4 linked regions of the Homo sapiens genome follow. The protein of the gene in region 3 interacts with the protein of the main gene of each other region in a pairwise test. Each region holds a gene or a part of one and is shown on either strand. Other genes may lie near its edges.

Evidence for each region.
Region 1: the proteins of RBM3 (region 3) and RBPMS2 interact in binary tests that used the Homo sapiens proteins (3 or more experiments, as listed by UniProt).
Region 2: the proteins of RBM3 (region 3) and KHDRBS2 interact in binary tests that used the Homo sapiens proteins (3 or more experiments, as listed by UniProt).
Region 4: the proteins of RBM3 (region 3) and PRR3 interact in binary tests that used the Homo sapiens proteins (3 or more experiments, as listed by UniProt).

The regions. Positions count from the first base shown.
Region 1 is NC_000015.10:64,772,567-64,780,158, forward strand, and holds the start of RBPMS2 (RNA-binding protein with multiple splicing 2), read right to left. Parts: upstream 3,024-7,592; 5' UTR 2,754-3,023; coding exon 2,667-2,753; intron 2,178-2,666; exon of another isoform or gene 2,090-2,177; intron 1,886-2,089; exon of another isoform or gene 1,871-1,885; coding exon of another isoform or gene 1,868-1,870; intron 1-1,867.
Region 2 is NC_000006.12:62,276,203-62,283,233, forward strand, and holds part of KHDRBS2 (KH domain-containing, RNA-binding, signal transduction-associated protein 2), read right to left. Parts: intron 1-7,031. UniProt on the Homo sapiens protein: RNA-binding protein that plays a role in the regulation of alternative splicing and influences mRNA splice site selection and exon inclusion. Binds both poly(A) and poly(U) homopolymers. Phosphorylation by PTK6 inhibits its RNA-binding ability.
Region 3 is NC_000023.11:48,569,640-48,577,483, reverse strand, and holds the start of RBM3 (RNA-binding protein 3), read right to left. Parts: upstream 3,001-7,844; 5' UTR 2,911-3,000; intron 2,317-2,910; 5' UTR 2,304-2,316; coding exon 2,201-2,303; intron 1,924-2,200; coding exon 1,817-1,923; intron 1,171-1,816; coding exon 1,065-1,170; intron 977-1,064; coding exon 880-976; intron 459-879; coding exon 398-458; 3' UTR 375-397; intron 20-374; 3' UTR 1-19. UniProt on the Homo sapiens protein: Cold-inducible mRNA binding protein that enhances global protein synthesis at both physiological and mild hypothermic temperatures. Reduces the relative abundance of microRNAs, when overexpressed.
Region 4 is NC_000006.12:30,560,286-30,564,245, forward strand, and holds the end of PRR3 (proline-rich protein 3), read left to right. Parts: intron 1-1,042; coding exon of another isoform or gene 1,043-1,081; exon of another isoform or gene 1,082-1,480; intron 1,481-1,548; coding exon 1,549-1,839; intron 1,840-2,103; coding exon 2,104-2,210; 3' UTR 2,211-3,438; downstream 3,439-3,960.

The sequences.
Region 1 (7,592 bases), on a different chromosome or scaffold from region 3:
CAATATAGCAAACTCCAGGTAGTTACCCAAACAAGCCATGTGGTTACACAAACCTACCTCCTCACTTATACATGCGACTCCCTCCTCTTGGAATGCCTTTTCCACCCCCACAGGTCTAACCTTGCTCCTCCTACTCACCCACATCTCAGGGAAGGCTGACCTCTAATCTCTCAGGAGCACCATGGTACCATGTGCTCATATGCCTTTATTTTATCTATCATTGCATTTCACCTACCACCACTTCCTGGCAAGTCCTTCCGACCTCCTAGGCTGAGAATTTTCACTTGTATCCTTAACCCCTGGGTCCAGAAAGAAAACTTAATGCGTATGACATGGATAAAGCCTATAGGTAAGGTAGTCAAGCAGGCAGAGTCAAGGCTATCCAAAGCAGTTCAGGACAAGCAACCTCACTGATAACTCCCAGAACCATGAAAAATACACTCCCTTCGCCAGTGACCCAGCGCCTTTAGGAATTGAGGTCTTACGGCGTGCAGCAGCATTCCTTGGTTTCCTGGGCTTGCTCTCGCTAGTCTCCAAGAGTTGACTGGGAAGAAGCCACCTGTGTCAGCCATGGGAGTAAACCACTGCTAACGCTGATTCTCCAGATGGTTGCTCTTAGGGGCTGCAGAACTGACTGCTTAGGGAGCATCTAAACTACAGGGAGGATTCCAGTTCCAGCCTACACCACCAATCCAAGATGGAGCCACCAGCACAGGGGCTCATGGCCCACTATTCAGAAGACTAGGCCAGGGCTTGGGGAATAACCCTTTCCCTTACCAGACCAGACAGACACTGGGCTCCAGGAGACCCTCAGAACCCTTTGTTCTGGACCTCTGCTAAACGCGAGCCCACCATGCCCTTTTCCAAGTGCGCGGATTTGGAACCACCATAGGGCCGCAGGCCATCTCAACTCCCAAGGAGGAATAGTAGGGATTCCACTTTTTGAGAATCCTGCCCTCTTTCCCAGAAAAGGTACTTAGAAAGGAGTGGCTAAAACCTCAAATGCTTTTTTCAAGACTTAGAATGGCCACATGGGTCACCCTTCTCACCCAACAGCAGTGGGTCTGAGGGTTTGCCCAGTACCAGCCTCTTGGGCAGTGTGAAGTCCCCACTGAAGTAGACCCTTTAGCAGAAGTGGGGTTCTGGGTCCCCATTCAGCTTTATAGGAGACATGCTCTCCCCCAGTTTCAGCCCACAGCAGGGGGCCAAGCAGAGACTCCAAGTACGCTAGCAACCCTGTCACCCTCCCCAACTGTCAAGGGAGATTCTAACAGCCAGGTAGAGTCAGGATGGGGGCAAGATCCCCAAAGCCAAGGGCCTTTTGGCATCAAGGTACAAGGAGGGCAAGGCCTCTGGAGCCCAAACAAATCCACCACACTTAAGTCATTAGTGGACAGATGTCACAGTTGTATATTCTTCCCTTCCCCTTCCGCCAAAAAGTGGAGATCCAAACCTAGATTGTCATCGACTGGGGCTGGCTGAAGGTCTCTGAATAGCCGAGTGGGAGCTGGCGGCGCTGAGCCCAGCCCAGCCGAGGGCCACCGGCGCCATTCTGCACCAACCCCCAGCACAAGGGGAGGAGGCAACACCAGTCCACACCAGGGGCTCTGCGGTTTCTCCCCCAGGCCAAGGGGAAGGGCGCCCAAGGTGGATAACCAGCCCTTGGTTTCCTGGGCGAGAACATGCCAGGGCAGGGGCAGGAAGGCTCTCTCACCCCTAGAATGACGCAGCAGAGGCCAGAGGCCCTGCGAAGCCTGTCCCCTTCTACTCCAGTTCTTGTCTCCGCCAGCCTAGCTCCTCGTCCCTATTCACTGATATCTTTGAGGCTTTTATCCAGCACCCCACCCCGCACACACATCCTCCCTACCATCCATTAACCACCCAGCTGCTGGTGGTTCCACGGAGCCGCCTTACACTCCCTCCCTTTCGCACATGGCCGGTGGACGAGATGATTTCGCCCCTCCTGGCAGGATCCCACCCAGGCCAGCTTTGGGGTCCTGGCTTGGTTGCCAGGACAAACCCAGAGAGAGGAGAAGGACGAACTGAGTGTCTTTAGTCATCTTCCAAACTAATTAAATTGTGGGCTCACCTCTGCCAAAGCCCAGGTTCTGGGGCTGTGAAGAAAGCCCGCCCACCCCCATGACAACAGCTCGCAGGAACCGAGGAGCCGGCCGGCCCAGGCCTCCAAGGTCACGGGGAGGGGGTCAGGGCGGAAAAGGCAGTGGAGTGAGGGTGCCGCCCTCGGGCCGTGCTAATCCCGCTCCGCTCCGTGCCGCCGAGGCGGGGTCCTGGCCACGCAGGAGGTGCGCCTCGGAGGAGGGCGGCGAGCGGCTACGGGGTGGGGAGCAAGGGGCGCGCGGGCGGCAGGCATGGAACGGACGCGGCGCATCTCGCCCACCGCGGGACGCCCGGACGGCGGCCGGCGCGCGCGGCCCGCCTCGAGCCCGAGAGGGCGGGGAGACAATGCCTGTCCGGCGGGGCAGTCCAGGCCGCACGCTCCCGCCCGCGGACACGGGCCGCTCCTACCCGGGCGAGAGGGCAGCGGCGGGAAGGCGCCGGGAGCGATGGCCACCCCGGCCCCGCGAGGCGCGGCAGGCCCCGCTCGCCCTCTCCCGCGCCCGCCTGGCGTGCGCTTCACCCGGCAAGTCCCGGGGCCACAGACCCACCTCCTCCTCCAGGGCGCCGCCGGAGCCCGCGCCGGAGCCGGTGCCGGTGCTGCCGCCGTGCTCGCCGTCCGGCTTCAGGTTGCTCATGGTGCGGGGGAGGGGGCGGCGGGAAGGAACGCGAGGGCGAGCGCGGCGCCGGCCCCGCGGGAAGTGGGAAGGGGCGCGGGGAGCGGTGCGCTCGCGGGTGCGGAGCGGGTGGCGGGGGACCCACGGGGCAGTGAGAGGGGCAGCCTCCGCGTCGGGCCAGGGTCACATCAAGTTTGGCGGGTGCGGAAGGTGGGGAGGGGGTGCGGCGGGGGAGGCAGTGGGAGCCGGAGGGGCCGCCGCCTCCGCCTTTTCACTGCGACCGGCGAGTGCGCCGCGGCGGCGGCGGCGGCGGCAGCGGCGGCGGGGGGCGGGCGCCGGGGGAGGGGGCGGGCGCCGGCGGCGGGGGGCGGGGCCGGAACCGGCCTCAGCTGGGGCCCGGCCAGCCCCCTCCCCCGCCCGCCGCGCGGTCTCCGGGGGAACGCGCAGCCAATCCCCACCGCCCACCGTGGGCTCGCCCCGGCCCCGGCCGCGGGGCGCCGGCCTCCGGCCGGGCCTTTCCCCTCTCTCTCGCCTGGGTCAGCGCTCTCCCTCTCTCCTCTTCCCCCGCGCCCTTCTCCACGGCGAGTTTTTAAACTTTGATGAACTCGCCCGGCGAACTTTCTTAAAGGGGCCGCGCGCTGCGCGCCCCAGCCCGCGGGAGGTGGAGCCCCGTGCCCCGCACCCAGCGCCCCGGTCCCTGGGCGGCCCTGCCCGGGCGGCCTCGCGCTTAGGGCACCCGCAGCGAGGTTTCCGGGCCGTCGACTCCCCTTGTATCTTGATCTAGGGTTTTGGGGTTCCCGACGCACTCATTCTGCCCCTAAATCCAGTCGCGCAGACCTCAGCTCCGGGGGACCGAGTTCTGGGGGTGATGGCCGGGGGGAGGGGGTTGGGAGACACCTGAGCTTTGGCCCGGGCTGGGCGCTGTTTTGCTGAGTGACCTTGAGGAAATCACTTCCCCTCTCTGGCCTCAGGCTCCCAGCCCAGAGGGTGGGACTTAGGATCTCAAACTCCCTTCCCACTCCCAGTCACTATCTGAATAGGACTTAGGTGGGGATTCGAGTGTTGGGACCCCAATGGTCATTAGCGAGGGCTGCCTCGAATGACCAAGAAGGTTCTGTTGCCCACCTTGCCCTCAACACGCCTGGCTTTCGGGTCTTCTCGCTCCTCCCCCGACCTCAGTGCCCCTCACACCTTTCCCTGCCTCCTATTCTGAGCCCGAAGGCTGGGGACGGATGTAATAGCCTAGAGGCTGGGGGAGGTGGGGGAGGTCGTCGTGACTCCCCCCGCACCCCCGCGCAGGTCAGTAGGGCGCGGCCTCTGGGTCGGTTTTCTCTTCTATTTGAAAACCCAGCCGATGGGGGCCCGCCCTGCTGCCACAGTAGAAACCCGCACCCACCTCGGGGAGCGCTGGAAGCGCTGCAGCCTGAATCCGGCAGAGCCGCGGGAGAACTGGGTCCCTCCTCAGTGCCCCTTCTCCTGGACGGGGCGGAGGTTGCGGTGACCCGAGATCTTGCCATTGCACTCCAGCCAGGGCAACAAGAGCGAAACTCCGTCTCAAAAAAAGAAAAGAAAAAAGAAAAGCTGGATTTGCAGTCACGGACTGGTTAGGATCCCAGACCGTGGACAAGTGCCTGAGCCCCCAGAACCTCTGTGTGTCGACCTCCTGAATTAGGTAGGACTAGCACCACAGGATCACTGTGCTGTGGCTTAGTCTTCCCAGTAAATTATAATCTCCATCCTGACCTGCCATCTCACAGATAAATTGAGGCCTAGAGATGGGCAATGTCTTTCCAATGATATACTCATTCCTTTAGTAAATAATTATTGAGCACCTACTGTGGGCTGGGGACCATTTTCTGCTGGTGGCAAGGCCAAGAGCACCCTGGTTTCCCATCAGCCCTGTTGCCAACACTTGGCTCAGGCCCTATGAAGAGGGAGCTGCTGCCTGTAGGAGCCAGACCTTTACCCAGAGTTTTTAAGATGCCTCCAGCCTCAGGCATCTCCAGATAGAACCAACCTTGGGAACCCTCAGATACCCCTACCATCCTCCACAGGCCTCAGTCCAATCTGGCTGTGGGCTTGATCACCATCCCCTCCCCTAGAATAGGTCTTCCTATCAGGTTTGTCTCTAACTTTGGCCCAGGAATACTCTTCCTCTTCCTCTTCCTCCCCCGCTCCCCCTAATCAATCCAAAATCTTCCCTTCCCTCAAGATCCTGCCTTTCCCATGCTTTTTCCAGGAGAAGGAGCCTGGCCAGATTTCTGAACTCAGCCATTATATGGTTAATTTGAATTTTTCAAAGAAGAGCCTCTCATCTTGTAATTCTGGTCACCCTTCTTCTCCATTCTGGTCTCTGTTTTCTCCATAGATGGGAGAGCTAAGGCCCAAAAAGGTGACAAATGACACAGGGGCCACAACTGACCCCCATCACTACATTTCTTTTCTTTTTTCATTTTTTTTTTTTTTGTTTTGGGGGCTTTTTTGAGATGCAGTCTTGCTCTGTTGCCAGACTGGAGTGCAGTGATGCGATCTCGGCTCACTGCAACCTCCACCTCCCAGTTTCAAGCTATTCTGCCTCAGCCTCCTGAGTAGCTGGGACTACAGGAACGCACAACCACGCCCAGCTAACTTTTGTATTTTTAGTAGAGACGGTTTCCCCATGTTGGTGAGGATGATCTTGATCTCTTGACCTTGTAATCTGCCCCCATCAGCCTCCCAAAGTGCTGAGATTACAGGCGTGAGCCACCGCGCCCGGCCTTCTTTTCTTTTTTTAGAAAAAAGATCTTGCTCTGTCACCCAAGCTGGAGTGCAGTGGCACAATCACAGCTCACTCCAGCCTTGAACTCCTGGGCTCAAGTGATCCTTCTACCTCAGCCTCCCAGGTAGCTGTGATTACAGGTGCAACACCACGCCCAGCTAATTTTTTTTTTTTTTTTTTAAGAGACTGGCCTCTCATTATGTTGTCCCAAGCTGGTGTTGAACTCCTGGGCTCAAGTGATCCTCCCACCTTGGCCTCCCAAAGTGCTGGTATTATAGGCGTGAGCCACCACACCCAGCCTGTATTTCTTCTTAAGTTCTTCATAATTTGTAGTAAATGCTTACCCCTTATTAGACTGCCATTACTTATTTAACCTGTCTCTTGTTAGATATTTGTATTATTTCCAGTTTATTTTCTCTTTTGCCTTCATAGGCAAACTTTATATGAGGATTCTTTTTTTTTTCTTTTTCTTTGAGACGGAGTCTCACTATGTCACCAGGCTTGAGTGCAGTGCATCCTCCATCTCCCAGGTTCGAGCAGTTCTCGTGCCTCAGCCTCCTGAGTAGCTGGGATTACAGGTGCCTGCCACCACACTCGCTGTCACACCTGGCTAATTTTTGTATTTTTAGTAGGGACAAGGTTTCACCGTGTTGGCCAGGCTGGTCTTGAACTCCTGGCCTCAAGTAATCTGCTCACCTTGGCCTCTCAAAGTGCTGAGATTACAGGCATGAGCCCGCCCTCTTATATGAGCATTCTTAATGCCTCAGAAAGTTTCCTGTATGTGTGACCAGCCCTTAAGCACTTTGGAGGCAACAACTGTCTTTTCCCTCTCTGTGCACCCCTATGGCCCCTGAAATGGCAGAATCTCCAATCTCACATGGATTTGGAGATCATATAAACACAAAGCTCCCACCCAGCCCGCACCTTCATGAGTAGTCAGGCGTACCCATTGGTGCTGACCAGAAGCTGATGTGAAAGAGGCTAGAGAGAGGAGTTTGGGGTGTACAACTCTTTCAGACATCTGAAGGGTAGGAACTTATATCTCTGTCTCCCCAGCTATGACCTAGTAGTGTAGCCTCTAGTAATCTCTTCAGTGCCCCAGGCCTCCCCCACTGTCATGCTCCATATCACCTCTGAGCTTCTCGAATTTCTATTCCTTTTGTCTGGAATCCTCCCATCCTCACTCTCCACCCCCAGCTTCCAGACCTTTCCCAGTACCCATTCTCTCTCCCCTGTGCTCTCAGAGTGCCTTCTCTGTGTCGTGTTGAACCTGGGAATACCTTGTTTTGAAGTCTCACCTACCACATGGGAAGCTTTCTGACTCCAAGGAGTGGCTGTAAACCCTGCTGAGTGAGTAGAACTCCTTAACCTCTGCAGCCCCCTGGCCTCCAGCAAGGAGCAGATGATGGTGGGCATTTTCAGTAGTAGGTGTTTAATAAACCTTTGCTGAACCAATACTGGGCTATTCCTGGAGCTTCTGGGCTATCTGAAGCCAATGGCCCTTTCTCTTTGATGTACTGTACATACATCATCCTTCAATATTTCATCCTTAGGGTAGGGAAAAGAGATGGCCTCACTCCTGGGAAACACTGCCCTGGAACTCAACTCCTGAGAGTGTGCCTGGCTACTTCAGGGCAGGCCCCCATTCTGACCCCAACTTTCCCACCACCAGGAAAGCCTAGGCAATAAGAAGGCAGATAGAAGCTGGGCTTGGTGGTGTGCGCCTATAGTCCCTGCCACTTTGGAGGCTGAGCTGGGAGGATTAATTGAGCCCATCAAGTCTAGATGGGGCAACATAGCAAGATCCCCTCTTTATTTAAAAGAAAAAGAAGAAAGGCAGGTAGAGAGGATGACCTTGAAGCTTAAAGGCTGAGATGTGTCTGAGTTATATTTTCTTTTTCTTTATTTTTTTGGGGGGAAGTCAGGGTCTTGCCCTGTCACCCAGGCTGGAATGTAGTAGCACAGTCTTGGCTCATTGCAACCTTCACCTCCTGGGTTCAAGCGATTCTCCCACCTCAGCCTCCCAAGTAGGTGGGAATACAGGATCCCCCCACCAGGCCCAGCTAACTTTCCCTAGCAGGGTTTCACCATGTTGGCCAGGC
Region 2 (7,031 bases), on a different chromosome or scaffold from region 3:
TGATAACAGTATAATAACACCAGCCAATCTGTTTCAAAGTTATTAAATTCTAATACCTCAGAACATACAGATAACATTTAAATCAAGCTATACTGTCTTCTGTTTCTGATCAAACGTAAAATTTGCTCACTTCTAAATGTTAAACAAAACCCTGACTGCCTCAAGACCCAAGAGAGGGCCTACAGTTGTTCTTTGCTTCTAGAAGAATTCAGCAAATGTAAGCAGTTCTCTAAAAAATGTGGGGAAAAAAATGCCTCAGCAAACCACACAAAATTATCCAATCACTTTTTGGGTCCAAAGAAGTCTGAAATGTTCCCTCTGCTCTGCCACCACATCACTAAGCTCTCTAAGAAGCAGTCAATGTAAGTCATTCAGAAAATGTAGTAGGCTGTCTTGATGATCCTTAATTCAATTCTATACTAAGGTAAATTCCCCCATTCATAAATTTATTTGACTTTTATAAGCTATACTTATATTTTATGATATCATATAATAATTCATCCAATATTTGTATTCAGAAACATATTTTAGAAGTTAATGGCAACAACAACATTGATCTTCTAGATAAAATGTGCATACTAATAGCTGACATTCTTTCAAAGCCTAACATTGGGTCTCTATCACAGGAGACAATGTGGTGTAATGGTTACACGTGGCATCTAGGTGAAAAGGCCTGGGTTTCAACTTTACAATTTCTTTGCTGTGAGACCTGATATAAATTAATTTATCTAAGCCTTAATTTGTTTAATTTGTAAAACTAATGCTAATAACTACACAATAAGGTTGGTGGGTAGATTACTTGTGGTAATGCATCGTCTAGTACAGTGTCTGGCAAAGAGTAAACTCAATAAATGTTGAGATGATGATAATGGTAATAATGATAAATCTCTCATTACCATAAACAACAGAAGTTATGACTTTCTCTGAATTCCTATATCAGTGGTCTCTAAAATTTCTGTAAAATCTATCAGACCTTCCATATACTTATTTATATCATATATGTATATATATAAATATCTGTCTATATATGTAGTTGAATCCCCTATAGATTATAAACCCCATAAATTAAACATTTGATACTTCATTTATTAATAGCACATATCATATGCAGTTTTTTGGGTTTTTCTGTTGTTTTTGTTTTGTTTTGTTTTGTTTTTGAGACGGAGTCTTGCTCTGTCACCCAAGCTGGAGTGCAGTGGCGTGATCTCGGCTCACTGCAACCTCCACCTCCCGGGTTCACACCATTCTCCTGCCTCAGCCTCCCGAGTAGCTGGGACTACAGGCGCCCGCCACCACGCCTGGCTAATTTTTTTGTATTTTTAGTAGAGATGGGGTTTCACCGTGTTAGGCAGGATGGCCTCGATCTCCTGACCTTGTGATCCACCTGCCTCGGCCTCCCAAAGTGCTGGGATTACAAGCGTGAGCCACTGTGCCCGGCCCATATGCAGTTTTTAACAACACACATTCAAGGGCATATGTGATTGTGTAGTCAAATGCAGTAGAGTACTAGTCTGATGGAATTAATCCTCCAAACTATAACTAAAATATAAGGTAAATAGCCTAATGCTTTTATGATTGTTTATTATCTCTCTATACTGCAAAATCTTTTTGGAAGTACTGTTATGAGTCAAATGGAGGATGTGCTAAAAATGACTTCTTTCCTCCAAAAAAGTTAATAACAATGGAGCAAGAGGATGCTTGGCCATGACCTCACAAGTATTTGGCAAATAAAAGATGCAATCACTACAGAACTCTGCACTTGAGAAGATGAGGAAGCCATATAATATGGATATTTGCTAACATTAATGTAGAATATCATCTATTAGTGGTTATTCCACCTCTAAAAAAATTTCCAAATTCAGTTTATTTTATTGGAATTCAGCAGTTTGTGGGGAATAGTACCAAATTTTGATCTATGAAATATATTAAATATTACACGGTTTATAGCTTTAAAAAATCAAACTGATGCCAGAATATAATTCCAATGAAGATATATTTCTCATAATATAGCCAAACCAAAAAGAAAGATCAAATTCAGTGCTCAAATAAGTGCAAAAGGAAAGCTGATGATACTACACAGTTATTTCCAGGGGTTTCTAAAAACTACCTCCAAACCTCACTTCCTCCCCTTGTACAGCTGCTGTGGGAACAAACAGCTTCACTATAGACTGTATACATAAAGAGAAACTGAGAATAATGATCAGTTATGTTCCCATTCTCAGGTACCAGGCCATAAAAAAACCTTAAAATCAGATAAATATAGAGAATACTACTGTGTCCATTATCTAGATGAATTTATCGTGGTCATGCTCATTCCTATATAACTAGTCAATGAAATATTAATATTAATGTACAAGGCCTAATAGTCAATCAAAAGAAAATTTCATAAAAATATAAATTAAAACACATAAATGAATGCGGATGGGACATTACAGATAAACATAAGAAGACTTTCTTTTCTAGAAAGTGGAAAAAAGGAGGCCAATTGTCTCAGTACCACAAGATTCGGGAATGACATTTCAATGGTTTTCTTAGATTTTCTTTGTGCCGCGTATGTGCCAGACTGAGTGCTAGAAAAGCCAGCAACTCAGAAGTATTAAAGGCAGACACGGCCAGGCGTGGTGGCTCACGTCTGTAATCCCAGCACTTTGGGAGGCCGAGGTGGGCGGATCACGAGGTCAGGAGATTGAGACCATCCTGGTTAACACGGTGAAACCCCGTCTCTACTAAAAATACAAAAAATTAGCCAGGCGTGGTGGCGGGTGCCTGTAGTCCCAGCTACTCAGGAGGCTGAGACAGGAGAATGGCCTGAACCCGGGAGGCGGAGCTTGCAGTGAGCTGAGATTGTGCCACTGCACTCCAGCCTGGGTGACAGAGCCAGACTCCATCTCAAAAAATAAATAAATAAATAAATAAAAATAAATAAAAAGCAGACACACACAAAGCCTCAATCCAAACAACAAAGAAACAAATGGGCAGATTCTCAGATACCTCACAGAGTAAAGAAGGACTTCCCTGTACTATCTTTCCAACTTCCTGCATATGAATAATTTTTCAAAATTGACTTAAAAACAAATGGAAACTTTCAAAGTGGCCTCCTGAGGTTTTGAATTATGCAAAGATAAAATATGACTGAATTAGTATTATCATTGTAAGTGACAGAATTACTGAAAAATTGTTTCTGGAGATATCTTCTAAACACATGGTAGGAGAAAAAGGAAGATATGAGGTCAGCATCATTCAGTTAAGAAACATTTATTGAGGCCTTCTACATATAAGACTGAAGGCAAGCATTAAAAATTCAAAGACAGAAGTCATAGTATGGCCCTCAAGCTTAGAGGGGGAGACAACCAAGATCAAAAAGAATTGCATGTTGCAATGTAGTAGTGGTGGATAGGTTGAAAATAAAACCAGAAGTGCACTTAATTTATAATGAATTAGATGAGAAGCCATTATGAAAGGCTTACTAGAAGAAGGAATAGCAGTACTCAGTTTTATTGGATGAAGATAAATTATAATCATGGAGAGAAGCTAGAAAGGGCATTCTAAAGTGAGGTCTTAGCATGTGCAACACCTTAGAGATAGGAGAGGACAGAGAGAAGAGCAAGTGTTATTCACATGCGGAAGAGGTAGCAGAGGGGCCAACAGGGGGCTGGTTCTCAAATCTGATGGAGAAAAGCCTGTTTGGCCTCTACCTGGCACCATCACATACCAGGCACTGTGAAAAGTGCTGCTAATATAGTGATGAAAAAGACTTGGTTCTGCTCCTCAAGAGGAGACAGAGAGGAGCTGTTTCTCTAGTGAGAGAGACAGGCACAACCTGATCATTCTAAAATAACAGTTTGAATAGTGATCTAGAGGCGTTCGTTATGGGAATGAGGGGAAAATATCTAGCTTTCTGTGAATAGGTATGGGAATGTCAAGGGAGTGTAGAGAGTGAATTATAAGCAGTTTGGTATACCTGAGAGAAATTAAGCAGAAAGGCTGAAGAGATGCTTCTGGAGAGGTAAGCATATTATAAGAACGTCAAGGGGTATGGACTACGCCTTGCAGGCAATGGAAATTATTAAGAAGTGTGACATGGTGAGACTTTAAATGAATTACTGTGACAGCATTGTGTGTGTTGGTGTGGGAAGGAGGGAAATGAAGGATGATGAGGGCAAGAAACGGTCAAAAAAGGAAGTAAAACCAGTAGAATATAGTGCCCAGAAGACAAGGAAGATGGAAAGAAATCAGAAGAAGGTCAACAGTGGAAAGTGCAGCCAAGAGACTTGATAAGGGGTCAGAAAAAATTTACTCAATTTGGCAATATGAGATTATTCTGTCACTAGGGTCATCAGTTTCAGGACAGTGATGAAGACAGAAGCCAAACCGAATAATTCTAAAAAGGTAAATTAAGAAAGTGAGGCAGCTAGTATATACTAGTATTATCAGAAGTTTGAAGGAAACAAGGAAGGACAAATGTCAAGAGAGATTATTTTCCAATATTTGTGGCAAGTGAAAGAAGTATTCTATTTCTTCAAATTATTCACATTGAATCATGTTGACAGCTGCTATAAAGAAAGAGTCGATCGGGAGAAAGAGTAGGAGATACAAATAAAGGATTTAACTACAGAATGAGTCCAGAGATGAAGAGCATTTGGGTCAAGGATATGGATGGCAAGTCAACCCTGAAGAAAAGAAACATTTGGTCTTCTGGGAATGAAAGACAATGACGATGGCTATGGAAGTTTTTAGGTGGTAGGAGGTTGAGGAATAGCAGAAGAGAGATATCCATTTCCTCCAATAAAACAGATGATGAAATCACCTGCTGAGAGTGAAGAACATGTGGGTTTAAGATGAAGCCTGAATAGGTCTGAAATTACTCTTGAAATAAATAGGACCAGGGCTAATCAAGCCCATGGTTAAAGACTGACAAGTGATCATTTACTAAACATGATATTTTTAAAACCCTCAATCTAATCCTTTTTCATAAGGTAATTTATTTCATAATTTGCTTTATGAGTTCAAATGTAACTCAGCAGTAATCTAAAGTAAGGCAGTGTTTATTTTACTTATTTTCTCAAATTGAGGTGCATCATCATGTTATGTTTGTTTAATTTCTGCTTATATTTTTGTTATACACATAAAAATTATTGGCCGGGCACAGTGGTTCATGCCTGTAATCCTAGCACTTTGGGAGGATGAGGCAGGTCAATCACAAAATTCGGAGTTTGAGACCAGCCTGGCCAACATGGTGAAATCCAGTCTCTACTAAAAATACAAAAATTAGCCGGGTGTGGTGGCACGCACCTGTAATCCCAGCTACTTGGGAGGCTGAGGCAGGAGAATTGCTTGAACCCAGGAGGCAGAGGTTGCAGTGAGCCAAAATCGCACCACTTCACTCTAACCTGGGCAACAGCGCAAGGCTCTGTCTCAAAAATAAAATAAAATAAATTTTTAAAATACGGCTTATGTTATCACAAGCATCACAAGCAGAAGTTGTTTTTTGTTTGTTTGTTTTTGTTTTTGTTTTTTCATCTTAAAAGAACCCTGCCTGGTAGGTATCACTTTTCCTGTTATATAGATGAAGAAACTGAGTATCAGAGAGGTGGAAAAAAAATGACACATCCTTTATTTCCCAGTAGGTAGAAGTGTCAATAATCACTCCCAAGTGTTTTTCTTGTCAAAGTAGAAATTTTCCACTATATCATAAATTGTCTTAATTGAAGATCAAAGATAACTTGAATTTAATTTTTTGCCCATGTTTGTTTTGTATTTAAGAAACATAAGATTATCCCAAGTCTATTGGGAGAAAAAGGTGATTACGTTAATCAAAAGAAAAGTCACTTTAAAGAGTCACAGGAACACTATTTTTTAACCAGAAGCTGTTTTAGACATGACACTAATAACTTTCCTTAATTAAAAAACTTATCAAGCTTTATGAAAAATATTTAAGAAACACGATCTAACTAAAAAATGGTTCTTATTGATAATCTAAATGTAGTTAACTCACAAGTTTGCATGTGTGGTAAGTATTAATCCCTCTTTTCTTAATATTTTTAAGATCTCATTTATATCTGCAGAAATAAAGGCCAAGTCTAGATGGCAGGTCAAACTTTTTACTAAAGTTTGAAAATAGCGCCTACAGTTTTTTGAAAACCATTCGAACTGCTGGAATATTTGGCAATATTTGACATCGTCATATAATGAGTCAACCAAAATGGTTATGATTATTTCAGTGCTTGCAAAGATTTCAGGCTAGAAAATCTTCCCCAAACCTCTCTTAATTGGACAAAAATTTATAATGCTCCTAGGAGTATGGAATCACCATAACTGAATATATAAATCTGAACAGATCTATGTCTGTCAGCAGACACAGAATATTTCCAGATAATATTTTCATGTATATACATTTTTGGCCTCAAACATTAATAGTAGTTCAATAGACTTAAGAACATAAATCTGTCCCCAGTACCCAAAATAAAGTATATGCCTCAAATTACATTTTAGTGCCATAAATATATTATTAATCATTAAACTAGGAAAGAATGAAAAAAGTTTCAAAAATGTGCAGCCATTGAATTTTTGTTCCGAATATACAAACATCACTTCGTTGTATCATCAGTAGCCTGAGACTTAATTAGAATTGCAAAAAAACATATACATCACTTAGTCCAACTCCTTAATTTGAGAGACAAGGAAACTGGGCCCAGGGAAAGAAAGCTTACCCAGATTCAGTTGAGGTTAAAGTGGAATTCAAATCTAGGTATCTAGATTCACAGTTTAATGCACTTCCCAGAAGCAGAAAAGATATAAATAAACTTATGTAATTTCATCTGGCAACCAAATTCAGACACTGAGTAGAACTTTAAGGATAGTCCTGAGTTTGCTGTTTTATCATATTCAAAAGCACCTACCATAACAAGTGGATAACTAAACAACATTATAATCGCAGGATGAACATTATTTTAATTATTTAAGCATATTATAAACAAACTTCAAACTACATTATTCAAGAACTCTTCTGAGTAACAATCAACTGAAATCAT
Region 3 (7,844 bases):
GAAATTATTCCTTGTGTATCTGGGAACAGCAAGAGGGGGAGAATTGTGATGTCATGAAGTAACAGCTGACAACATGCTCACCTCCTAGAGCTGATGAAGATGCTGAGGGTTGGACAACAGGGACACACCTTCATTTCCTCCATCCCACACAAGAGTAGAAGATTATAGGAGATGGGTTTTCAGATCCCACCCCCTAGCAAACTTGCTCTGATATGCACCTGAGAGCAAGGAAGGCCTAGCTAGGAATGTTTGGTAGGTTGGCTGGGTGAGGTATGAGGGCAGCAGAAATGCAGAGCAGTCTTGCCAGAAAAGGTGAGAGGGTCATGACAGAGTGTGACAAACAGGTTCACTCAATGCCGATATCCAAGTCTCACCTATATTATGTGCATGTCTCATTTCAGTTGTCATAATTGTCTCTGTAATTTCCTCCTGAGTAGCGGTCATAACCACCCTGGTTTCTGGGGGGGAAAAAAAACACACAAAAGTTTTCTGGTACTGCATTATATATACCACTGTAATTATATGCGTCACATTTTACAGTATGGGTCATAACATAAACCTTACGTATCAAAAACAGGATATGTTAAGCATATGAGTATCACAGTAAACAGTTTTATGGCATACGATTTATACGCAGTATATTAAATCATATTACATGTTAAAGCAATATAGTTATATAACCCACACAGCACAACATATATAGTATACTTTACCATGTCGCAACTATATGACTACACAATTAACTTAAAATGCTAAATTTCATACTCATTTTAGGTACACATTAGTAACAGCAAGGTGTGGTATGCATGAACACCCAGGCGCTGAGTTCTTAAGGAGAGGGAAGCAATAGGAGAACATCCCAGCCCTTTGGCTACCCACCTGCCATTATAGTCTCTGGAACGTCCATATCCATATCCATACCCTCCAGGTCGACTGTCATAATACCTGCCACTCCCATAGCCCTGGTCCCCACCACCTAGAGCAGAAAAATATTTAAATGGCAGTTGTCCACACATAGGCAACTCTCCCTCTCACCCCATGATCAAAACGATCACTGCACTCACCTCTAGAGTAGCTGCGACCACGCCCATGGGCCCCAAAGCCACCTCCTCTGGTTCCCCGAGCAGACTTGCCTGCATGATCCACACGGATCTGACGACCATCCAGAGACTAAGTGTGGGAGACACAAGGATGATGGGTTGGCAGTCAGTCAGGGCAATGGTGAGGGAAGAGCAGGCAAGGGTAAGTGGGCAAAAGAGGCCAAAAATTCCTGCTGGGCACCAGGTTCTGGGTGCCATGTTCCAGAATAAGCTCCTTTACCCCAGAATGGCTTCATCAGGAGCTATAGAATCCCACACAAAATGACCTGAATGCACCATGTTCCCCTTGCTACTACTTACATCTTGACTGAACTCAGGCTGAGTTCTCCTCCCCACTCCTCTAAGCTGCCCGACTATCAGGGCTAGACAGACACCTCTCTTGGTTTGAGGCTTCAGAGTCCATGTCAGAAGACTCACGAGGTCCTCTCCGGGCCAGGCCCACAGGTCTGCAGACTCTACTACCTAAGCCCAAGGCAGGTCAACCATCCACAGGTGGCTTCTCGGCCTCATGCAGGACCAGTCGTCGCCTCCCAGGCGGCCAGGCTCTGTCTGCCGCTGCCCTCCACCCCCTAGAACAAAAGGCAGTCATGCTCCTGTGAGTGGGCACTGCGGGGCTTGGTGGCCACGCTGCCCCGAGCAGACACAGAGGGAAAAACAAAAAGAATGAAGGAAGCCGCAGATGGGGACAAGGTCCCTCTGCAGATAGGAGGCCCCACCTCTCCGTTCATGGCTCTCATGGCAACTGAAGCATGCTCTGGGTTGGTGAAGGTGATGAAACCAAAACCCCTGGACCGCTGAGTCTCCCGGTCCTTGACAACGACCACTGTGAGAGGGAGAGAAGATGGAGCAATGTGGACCAGTCAGTACCCCAAAGGTTAAGTAGCAAAGGGTGGCCGGAAAAGGAGATGGCATAGGTAGGGAAAACGGAGCGCTCCCACTAATCCCAAAGACGCTTCCCCTCATCCTTAGTCTACACCATAGGCTTAGGAAGAAAAAGAATTTGGAGGCGTGGGTCCTAACTTTTCAGTTAATACTCCTTGAAATGCAAGGATCCCAGACTTTCTCTCACCAACCCCCATTGTGAGTATGGCCCGTCTCACCCTCAGAGATAGGTCCGAAACTGCTGAAGTGGTCTTCCAGTGCCTGCTCGTCGGTGTTAAAGTTGAGCCCTCCCACGAAGAGCTTTCCTTCTTCAGAGGACATGGCAGTTCAAGTCCTGTGGGAAGAACATGAAGAATGGTGGCAGGAAGGAGAAAGAAAATGGAGATGTGAGAAAATAGCGAGACGGAAAGCAGAGAAAAAGCACAGAAAATAGACAAGAAAGAGGAACAAAATATGGGTAACTACAGAAAAGCTGAGAAAGGCGGCCAATAAGGTGGTAATCTGAGGAGCTGGCTCAGCGCAGCCACCATTAGGGGGCCACATTGCGCATGCTCTCACATTCATAGCCGCCACGCCCGTCATTTTGTGCCACTGCGCAAGCCCAGAACATCCCTGCGTTCCCTTAACGCCGGCAGAACAAGATGGCGGCGGCCACGTGGGATAAGGAAAGTAAGTGTCGGCTGTCGCGTGGTCACTGCCACCACCGACGCCACCAGTCCCTCCCGGTAGGCCTCACACTCAGATACAGCGCGCCGGCCTCCCACCAACCGAAATGTTTCACCTCCAAGCACGGGACCCGCCCGTCCCAGAGAAAGCCAAGCCTACGTGTCAGTGGCCATTACTCTCCCCACTCGCTATTCCCCGGTCACGGCCGGCGCGGCGCGTGTGTGGCGAGGAGCCGCCGTTTCGCAGGACATATGCAACTTACCTGGAAATTAAAACGTAAAAAACCCGGACGAACAGCGAGCTCGGAGGAGCACAAAAAACAGGGACGGGGCTGCGCCGGAAGACGATTGATAAAGAGTACGTAGCGAGAACGTCCCGGAACGTTCCCCTTGCGCGTCCCGGCGTGCGTGCTGATTGGCTGAGGCCAGCAGGAGCGGAGTGGTGGGGAGAGGAAGGGACAGCAAAGCGAAGGGAGCAGTGTTCTCCGCGAAATGGGGTGTTTCCGGAAATGGGGTGTTTCCGGAAATGGGGTCGACTTTTGAACAGCTGGTGCACCCTAAACGTCAGCATCCCCCCCACAACCGGCTGAGCTGCCTTTATCCCTTCCACAAAGGAACCTTCTCAATCTCATACTACTTGCTGTCCCTGACATCATCCTCCCGTCCTTGCCATCATTTCCCCCGCTGGATCGGATGTCTTCCTCACCATCGTAGTCGTCTTCCTCTAGGTCCCTGCCATTCTCTGATGTTAACCTCCTTCACCTTCTAGTTCTTTAACCTCATACCCTTTAAAGGCCTGACATTTTATCCCCCACCGTCACTGATGTCATCACCCTTCACAGTCCATGATGTCAGACCCAACGTTTTAAGGTTTGACCCTGACTCCTACTCTTTCTCCTCTGTGCTCAACATCTAGCCGCCTGTCATGGGACCCTTTTCCCTGGCGTCATTCCATCTCATCTCTGACTTCAGCCCTCACCCTTGTCTGACTGCTGGCGTGAAGCCAGCCCCTTAATTTTCTCACCAATAGACTGCCTGAGATGGCTTTTACAAAACAGGATGCTGGCCGGGCGCGGTGGCTCACGCCTGTATTCCCAGCACTTTGGGAGGCCAAAGCGGGCGGTTCACGAGTTCAGGAGTTCGAGACCTGCATGGCCAACATGGTGAAACCCCATCTCTACTAAAAATACAAAAAAAAAAAAAAAAAAAAAAAAAGAAAAAAAAAATTAGCTGGGTGTGGTGGCACGTGCCTGTAGTCCCACCTACTCGGGAGGCTGAGGCTGGAAAATCGCTTGAACCCGGGAGGCGGAGGTTGCAGTGAGCCGAGACCACGCCATTGCACTCCAGCCTGGGTGAAAACAAAACAAAACAAAAGAGGATGCTACGATCTTCAGAGGTTGTAAATCCCAATCCATAGAGCAATTTTTGCTCTCTTCGAAAGTAACTGAGCCCTTGCCGGGCGCAGTGGCTCATGCCTGTAATCCCAGCACTTTGGGAGGCCGAAGTGGGCAGATCACAAGGTCAGGAGTTCAAGACTACCCTGGCCAATATGGTGAAACCCTGTCTCTACTAACAATACAAAAAAAAAAAAAAATTAGCCGGGCGTGGTGGTAGGCACCTGTAGTCCCAGCTACTCAGGAGGCTGAGGCGGGATAATCGCTTGAACCCGGGAGGTGGAGGTTGCAGTGAGCTGAGATCATGCCACTGCACTCCAGCTTGGGCGACAGAGCAAGACTCAGTCTCAAAAAAAAAAAAAAAGTAACTGAGCCCTTGATTCACAGAAGGGACTTTCGCAATACACAATAGACTTATCCCAATCAAGTAGTGTCTGAGCCCACTGTTCACAATTTAGTCTTCAGTGTCTTGGCCACCTTTACAATAAATGGATTTGACAGATTTTTCACTTCTGAGCGCCACATCAACGAAGAATAAGTTAGTTTGCCCTCAGAGGCTAAATTTCTTATCCATAGAATGAATTTGCCCAACACAGACCAAATTTGCTAACATACAGAATACAGTACATCCATATTCCTGTTGGGGTAATTCCCATATTTATCTTCCTGTTATTGTCAGGGATTCCTCACATAGTCTAATTATTAATCCCTTAGGTGTTGGAAATAGCCTCTCCAGCTCTGGCATTTGTGTTATTAACTTTGTAAGCAGTAAACTTAGTTGAATAAAGATCCATAATTTTGATATAATCATTTTTCCCCCTATGTTCTGTGCTTTTTTCTGAGACGGAGTCTCACTCTGTCGCTCAGGCTGGAGTGCAGTGGCATGATCTCAGCTCACTGCAACCTCCGCCTCCCAGGTTCAAGTGATTCTCCTGCTTTAGTCTCCTGAGTAGCTGGGATTACGGGCATGTGCCACTATGCCCAGCTAATTTTTGTATTTTTAGTAGAGATGAGGTTTCACCATGTTGTTCAGGCTGTTCTCAAACTCCTGACTTCATGATCCGCCTGCCTCGGCCTCCCAAAGTGCTGGGATTACAGGCGTGAGCCACCACGCCCGGCCTGGTCTGTGCTTTTAAAGAAATCATTCTCTTTCCCAGGTCACAAAATGTTCCCCTACAGTTTCTTTCTTTCTTTCTTTTTTTTTTTTTTTGACAGAGTTTCGCTCTTGTTGCCCAGGCTGGAGTGCAATGGCACTATCTCGGCTCACTGCAACCTCCGCCTCCTGGGTTCAAGCAATTCTCCTGCCTCAGCCTGCTGCGTAGCTAGGATTACAGGTGTGTGCCACCACACCTGGCTAATTTTTGCATTTTTAGTAGAGACAGGTTTTTGCCATGTTGGCCAGGCTGGTCTTGAACTCCTGGCCTCAAGTGATTCGCCTGCCTCGGCCTCCCAAAGTGCTGGGATTACAGGCATGAGCCACCGCACCCGGCCACATTTAGGTCTTTAATCCATGTAGAGTTCGTCCTTGTATATGGTGTGAGATAGAGCTCCAATTTTATTTTTCTCTGTGTCATGAGCCAGATGCCCCATCACCATCTATTAAGCAATCTGTCCCATCCCTGTGTGTGTTTTACCACCTCTATCATGTATCAAGTTCCATAGATATATGGGTCTGTCTCTGAGGTGGTTTGTTGCTGGTTTTGTTGTTATTGTTGTTTTTAAGAGATGAGCCCAGGCTGACTCCTGGCCTCAAGCATTCTCCCCAACTCAGCCTCCTGAGTAACTGGGATTACAGGGGAGCACTATTGTACCTGACTTCTGAGCTTTTTTTTTTTTTTTGACAGAGTCTCACTCTGTCGCCAGGCTGGAGTGCAGTGGCGCGATCTTGGCTCACTGCAACCTCCGCCTCCTGGGTTCAAGTGATTTTCCTGCCTCAGCCTCCTGAGTAGCTGGGACTACAGGCGCGTGCAACCACGCCCAGCTAATTTTTGTATTTTTAGTAGAGATGGGGTTTCACCATGTTGGCCAGGATGGTCTTTTTTTTTGAGACGGAGTCTCGCTCTGTCGCTCAGGCTGGAGTGCAGTGGCGCGATCTCGGCTCACTGTAAGCTCTGCCTTCCAGGTTCACGCCTCAGCCTCCCGAGTAGCTGGGACTACAGGCGCCTGCTACCGCACCCAGCCAATTTTTTTTTTTTGTATTTTTTAGTAGAGGCGGGGTTTCACCGTGGTCTGGATCTCCTGACCTTGTGATCTGCCCACCTCGGCCTCCAAAAGTGCTGGTATTACAGGTGTGAGCCACCGTGCCCGGCCTTCTCTTCTAATTGGTCTACTTCTTAGCTCTTGGGCCAATATAGGTTTGTTGTTGTTTTTTTTTTCCCTTTTATTACTAACACCTTTAATATGTCTTAATATCTAGTGGGCAAATCCCCATCATAACGCTTTCTTTGAAGGCTGTCTTAACTGTCCATGATTCATTACTATTCTAAATTCTAATGTAAGTGTATTGCAGTTCTAACAAAAAGAAGTAATGAGGTCAGGCATGGTGGCTCTCGCCCAAATCCCAGCTACCTGGGAGGCTGAGGCAGGAGGATCGCTTGAACCCAGGAGTTGGAGTCTGCAGTGAGCTATGATCGTGCCACTGCACTCCAGCCTGGGCAACAAAGTGAGACCCTGTTTCAAAACATTAAAAAAAAAAGTAATGGAAGTGTTATTGAGAGTGCATTGAATTTTTACATTTTGGGAGAAATAACGTCTTTTTTTTTGAGATGGAGTTTCGCTCTTGTTGCCCAGGCTGGAGTAAAATGGTGCAATCTCGGCTCACTGCAACCTCCGCCTCCCGGGTTCAAGCAATTCTCCTGCTTCAGCCTCCTGGGTAGCTGGAACTACAGGCACCCACCATTATGCTCGGCTAATTTTGTATTTTTAGCAGAGACGGGGTTTGTCTATGTTGGTCAGGCTGGTCTCAAACTCCTGACCTCAGGTGATCCACCCACCTCGGCCTCCCAAAGTGCTGGGATTACAGGTGTGAGCCACCATGCCCGGCCAAAATAACATCTTAATAATATTAACTGTGGAGGTTTTAAGATATGGTCACACTCTGATACTGTACTCGTCAAGAGTTGGAGCCTAACTTCCTTCCACTTGCATGTGTGCTGGACTTAGTGACTCAATTGTAAAGCACAGAATGAGGTGGAAGTGATAGTGTGTCATTTCCAAGACCAGGCTGTAAAAGGCACATCTGCTTCATGCTCTCTGTCACACAGACTGCTCATTATGTGGGACATTAGCTGGTATGTCATGAGCAGCCCTATGGAGGGATCTAGGTGGCAAGAAAGTAAGGCCTCTTGCCAACAGCCATGTGAGCAAGCCTTCTTAAAGGTGGATCCCAGCCTTCAGATAACTGCAGTCCTGGCCAACATCCTGATTGTAGCCTCATGAGAGGCTCTGAGTCAGAACCACCCAGTTAAGCCACTCTCAGAATCCTGACTCTCCAAAACCATGTGAAATAATAAATGTGTATTGTTTTAGCCACTAAGTTTTGGGATAATTTGTTAAAAATAACTTATATATTACCAAAATCTTTCCAGCAAAGAGCATAAAATGTCTCTCTTTTATTCAGATCAATTTCTATTGTTAGAGTTTAAATTCTTTAAAATAGAGGTCTCTTGTATTAAATTCATTCCTACTTTTTTTTTTTGTTGGTTATTGCTGCTATACAGAAATGCTTTTGATTTTTACAGGTTGATGTTGATTTTGTATTGGGAAACCTTGCTGAACCCCTTTTTTTTTTTTTAAGATGGAGT
Region 4 (3,960 bases), on a different chromosome or scaffold from region 3:
ACCTGGGAGGCAGAGGTTGCAGTGAGTCGAGATCACGCCACTGCACTCCAGCCTGGATGACAGAGCAAGATTGTCAAAACAAAAAATAAAAATAAAGTCAACTTCAAAGAAACAGTAGAATGATGGTTACCAGAGGCTGGGGGAAGGAAGCTGGAGGAAGGGGAGTTTTGTTTAATGGGTACAGAGTTTCAGTTTTGCAAGATAAAAAACTTTTGGAGGTCGGGCATGGTGGCTCGTGCCTGTAATCCCAGCACTTTGGGAGGCCAAGTCGGGCGGATCATGAGATCAGGAATTCAAGACCAGCCTGGCCAATATGGTAAAACTCCATCTCTACTAAAAATACAAAAATTAGCCAGGCGTGGTGGTGGGCGCCTGTAATCCCAGCTACTTGGGAGGCTGAGGCAGGAGAATCACTTGAACCCAGGAGGCAGAGGTTGCAGTGAGCCAAGATCGCGCCACTGCACTCCAGCCTGGGCGACAGAGCGAGACTCCATCTCAAAAAACAAACAAAAACTTGGAGATCTGTTTCACATCAATATGAATATATGTAACACTACTGAACTGTACACTTAAAAATAGTTAAGATGGTAATTTTTATGTGTTTTTTACCACAATAAAAACCGAACAAAACAAGGCATGATGATTCATGCCTGTAATCCCAGCACTTTAGGAGACCAAGGTGGGAGGATCACTTGAGCCCAAGAGTTCAAGACCAGCCTGGGCAGTGTGGCAAGACCCAATCTCTCATTAAATAAATAATAATAACCAAACAAAAAAATAACCACCACTTTTCACACTCACCATGGCAAAATTTAAAAACCTAACAATTCCAAGTGTTGTCAAGGCTATAGGACAACTGCTGGTGAGAGTGCAAATTGGTATAACCACTGTGAAAAAAAAGTTTGGCATTATGTATGAAACTTGAGCATAACATATACTTTATAAGCCAGTAATACCTCTACTACGTATATATTCAACAGAAATGCATACGTATGTGTAACAACATGTATAAAAATGTTTATAGTGGCATTTCTCGTTATAGCCCCAAACTGGATACCACCCACATGTCCATCATCAGTAGAATGGATAAATAAATTGTTGTGTATGCATGCAATGGGACTACACTGCAACGAAAATGAATGAACTGCTGCTACAGGCAACCTGGATGAATCTCACAAACATGATGTTGAGCGAAAGGAGCCAGACATAAAAGAATGCAGACTGTATGATTCCATTTTTGTGAAGTTCAAAAACAGGCAAAAACTAACCTATGGTGTCAGGATAGTGGTTACCTTTGGGGAGGAGGGTGGGTAATGGGAAAAGGGGCACAAGGGGAGGATCTTTTGAGGTGCTAATAAGGCTTTATCTCTTCACCTGGTGGTGGAAACTCAAGTGTGTCTACTTTGTGAGAACTGGGTTGTGCACTTAAAACTGGTGTGTCTTTATGTATGCTGTTCTTCAATAAAAAAAATTTTTTTAATCACGGTTTATCAGGATTCAGCTGCCCATTAGACACCTTTCTGTGTCTCTCTCTCTCTCTCTCTCCAGCTCTTCACAGAGGTCCTCCAGGATCAAGGGGACCACTGATTCCACCACTGCTGAGTCTCCCACCTCCTCCTTGGGGTAGAGGCCCAATTCGGAGAGGGCTTGGCCCCAGGTCTAGCCCATATGGTCGTGGTTGGTGGGGAGTCAATGCAGAACCTCCTTTTCCGGGGCCAGGCCATGGGGGTCCCACCAGGGGAAGCTTTCACAAGGAACAGAGAAACCCTCGAAGGCTCAAAAGCTGGTCTCTTATCAAGAATACCTGCCCGCCCAAGGATGACCCCCAGGTTATGGAAGGTGAGGTCCATTTTGTTATGCCCATTACTCCCAGAGTGACCTAATTTTCAGAAGATCATTCACAATCTTCTCTGGGCTTTCCTTTTTGCTTTTGAAGCAGAAGTAGACCTCAATGTTATTTCTCCCAGGAGAAAGACTACCATTCCAAAATACCTGGAAATGGTAGGGGGTAGAAAATCAGTTCTCCTTCTGTCTCTGCGTTTCATTGTATTTGTTTTCTTTGTTGCTCAAATTTTTAACTGTTCCATTTTCACTTGTTCACAGACAAATCCGACCGCCCTGTCTGCCGACATTTTGCCAAAAAGGGCCACTGTCGATATGAGGACCTCTGTGCCTTCTACCATCCAGGCGTCAATGGACCTCCTCTGTGAGACTGTGCCTTCCCATCCAGGCTGGAAGGAGCTCTCTGTGACCTAGCGGCCATTTATTTCTCTGTAGCCCTATGATGGCTACTGTGAGGCTCTTCTAACACCCTCAGTCAGTGACACACCCATCCCATCCACCACTTCCCCCGTGTGGGGTCCAGAGTGGTGTTGCATCACTGGTGCGCGGCATACGCGCTTTCTTCTGATCCAGCCTGTAGAGACTCGCCTTTGGGACCCATCTTTGCTTCCTTTCAGTTGCCTCCTGGATCTTCTTTCCCGTCATCAAATGACTGCTGAACAGGAAACCTCTTTGGTGCTGTTTCTTGTGCATCTGTCCACCTGTTCCCCAGTATTGCCCTCAATTCCTGAGAGCCCTGGAGCGGTTTCCTACCATTCCCTTCTTTTAGCTGCTTGTTTTAAGTCCTTTTTATGTGACATTCCCTACCCCCAATGTTGTCAGCTGCTTGTGAAACTCAGCCAGGTTGTCTAACCTGGGGTCAAGTTTGGGTGACTGGTGCAGAGTTACTTCCTAAAAGGCCACTCTCCCTGCCTTTGGATTTCATAGTTTCTCTGTCAGTAGCATGATCCCCACCGCTATGGTCTATCTATGATCACCGTGCTTTGTGAAACTGTGCATCCCCTTGTAGCCTTTCTCAGTGTCCGTGGCATTTTTGTGACTTCCCAGCACTAGAATAAGTTTTCCTGCCAAAATGAGTGAGGCGCTTGGTGCCCTCTGGACTTTCCCACTTCCCAACATGGGAGAATTGTGAACTTTCCATCAGACTGCCTCCCTGGCCCTCCCCATTCTTCTCCTGTTGGTTATTCTGAGTCTGACACAGACCCATGACATGTCTTATAAAGCCTCCAATGGCTTTATCCTACCTAGATCCCTTCCAGCCCATTTTAATTAGACTATGTCATTGTGAGGCCACCAGTCCATTCATTTGAATTCTGTGAATCTCCACCTTGCCTATCTTTGGGTAGAAGCTGGACAGTACTGTTGCCCTCTTCCAATCCTCTTCCCCTACATCCCTGGCACTGGTTGTTTTCTGTGAAAACAGCAGTGAACAGGTTCAGTTTTGAACTGGCCCTGAGGAAATGGGTCAGGAGTTGTATTGGCAAGAGGGAGGGGTGAGAGCTGTTGGAGAACTGAGAATGAGGTTTTTTTTTTTTTTTTCTTTTTAACTTTTTTTATATTAGTAATAAATGCAGTGGAAACCAGCATTTTATTTAATCCCTGTGTTCTAGTCATCTCTGGAGTTGCAGATGAAGCTGTTCTCACCTGGTGGAGTCAGCTTATTCTTTAGTTCATACACACTAGTGATGGGGAATGACAAAGCTTAAGGTTCTTCCAGGCTGAAAAAAACCAATGGAGGTTCCATTAGCCTGTAGGCATCAACCAGAACAAGCTGCCTTATGTTCAAGGGCAAAGTTTTGTAAGAAAAAGGAAAGGCCAGGTGTCCGTGGAGTTATTTTTAAATATTTTACTTTGCAGAGTTTGTGTTTATGGAGTGGTAATGATGAAGGAGTCTTTCAGCAGCAATTTGCAGAATGCCTGTGGGCCAGGCAATATACCAAGCACTAGAGATAACTGACAGCCAAAGCCAATGGATTTAAAATGTACAGGGAAGACAGGTTTCTCATAATCACAAATAGCATGTAAAGTTAAACCTGTCAAAAGTGCTGGGAAGAAGACAGGGAAGAAAAGAGGGTGAAAGAGAGTTGTGTAATAAAGGGAGTCAGGGTAGGAGATGCA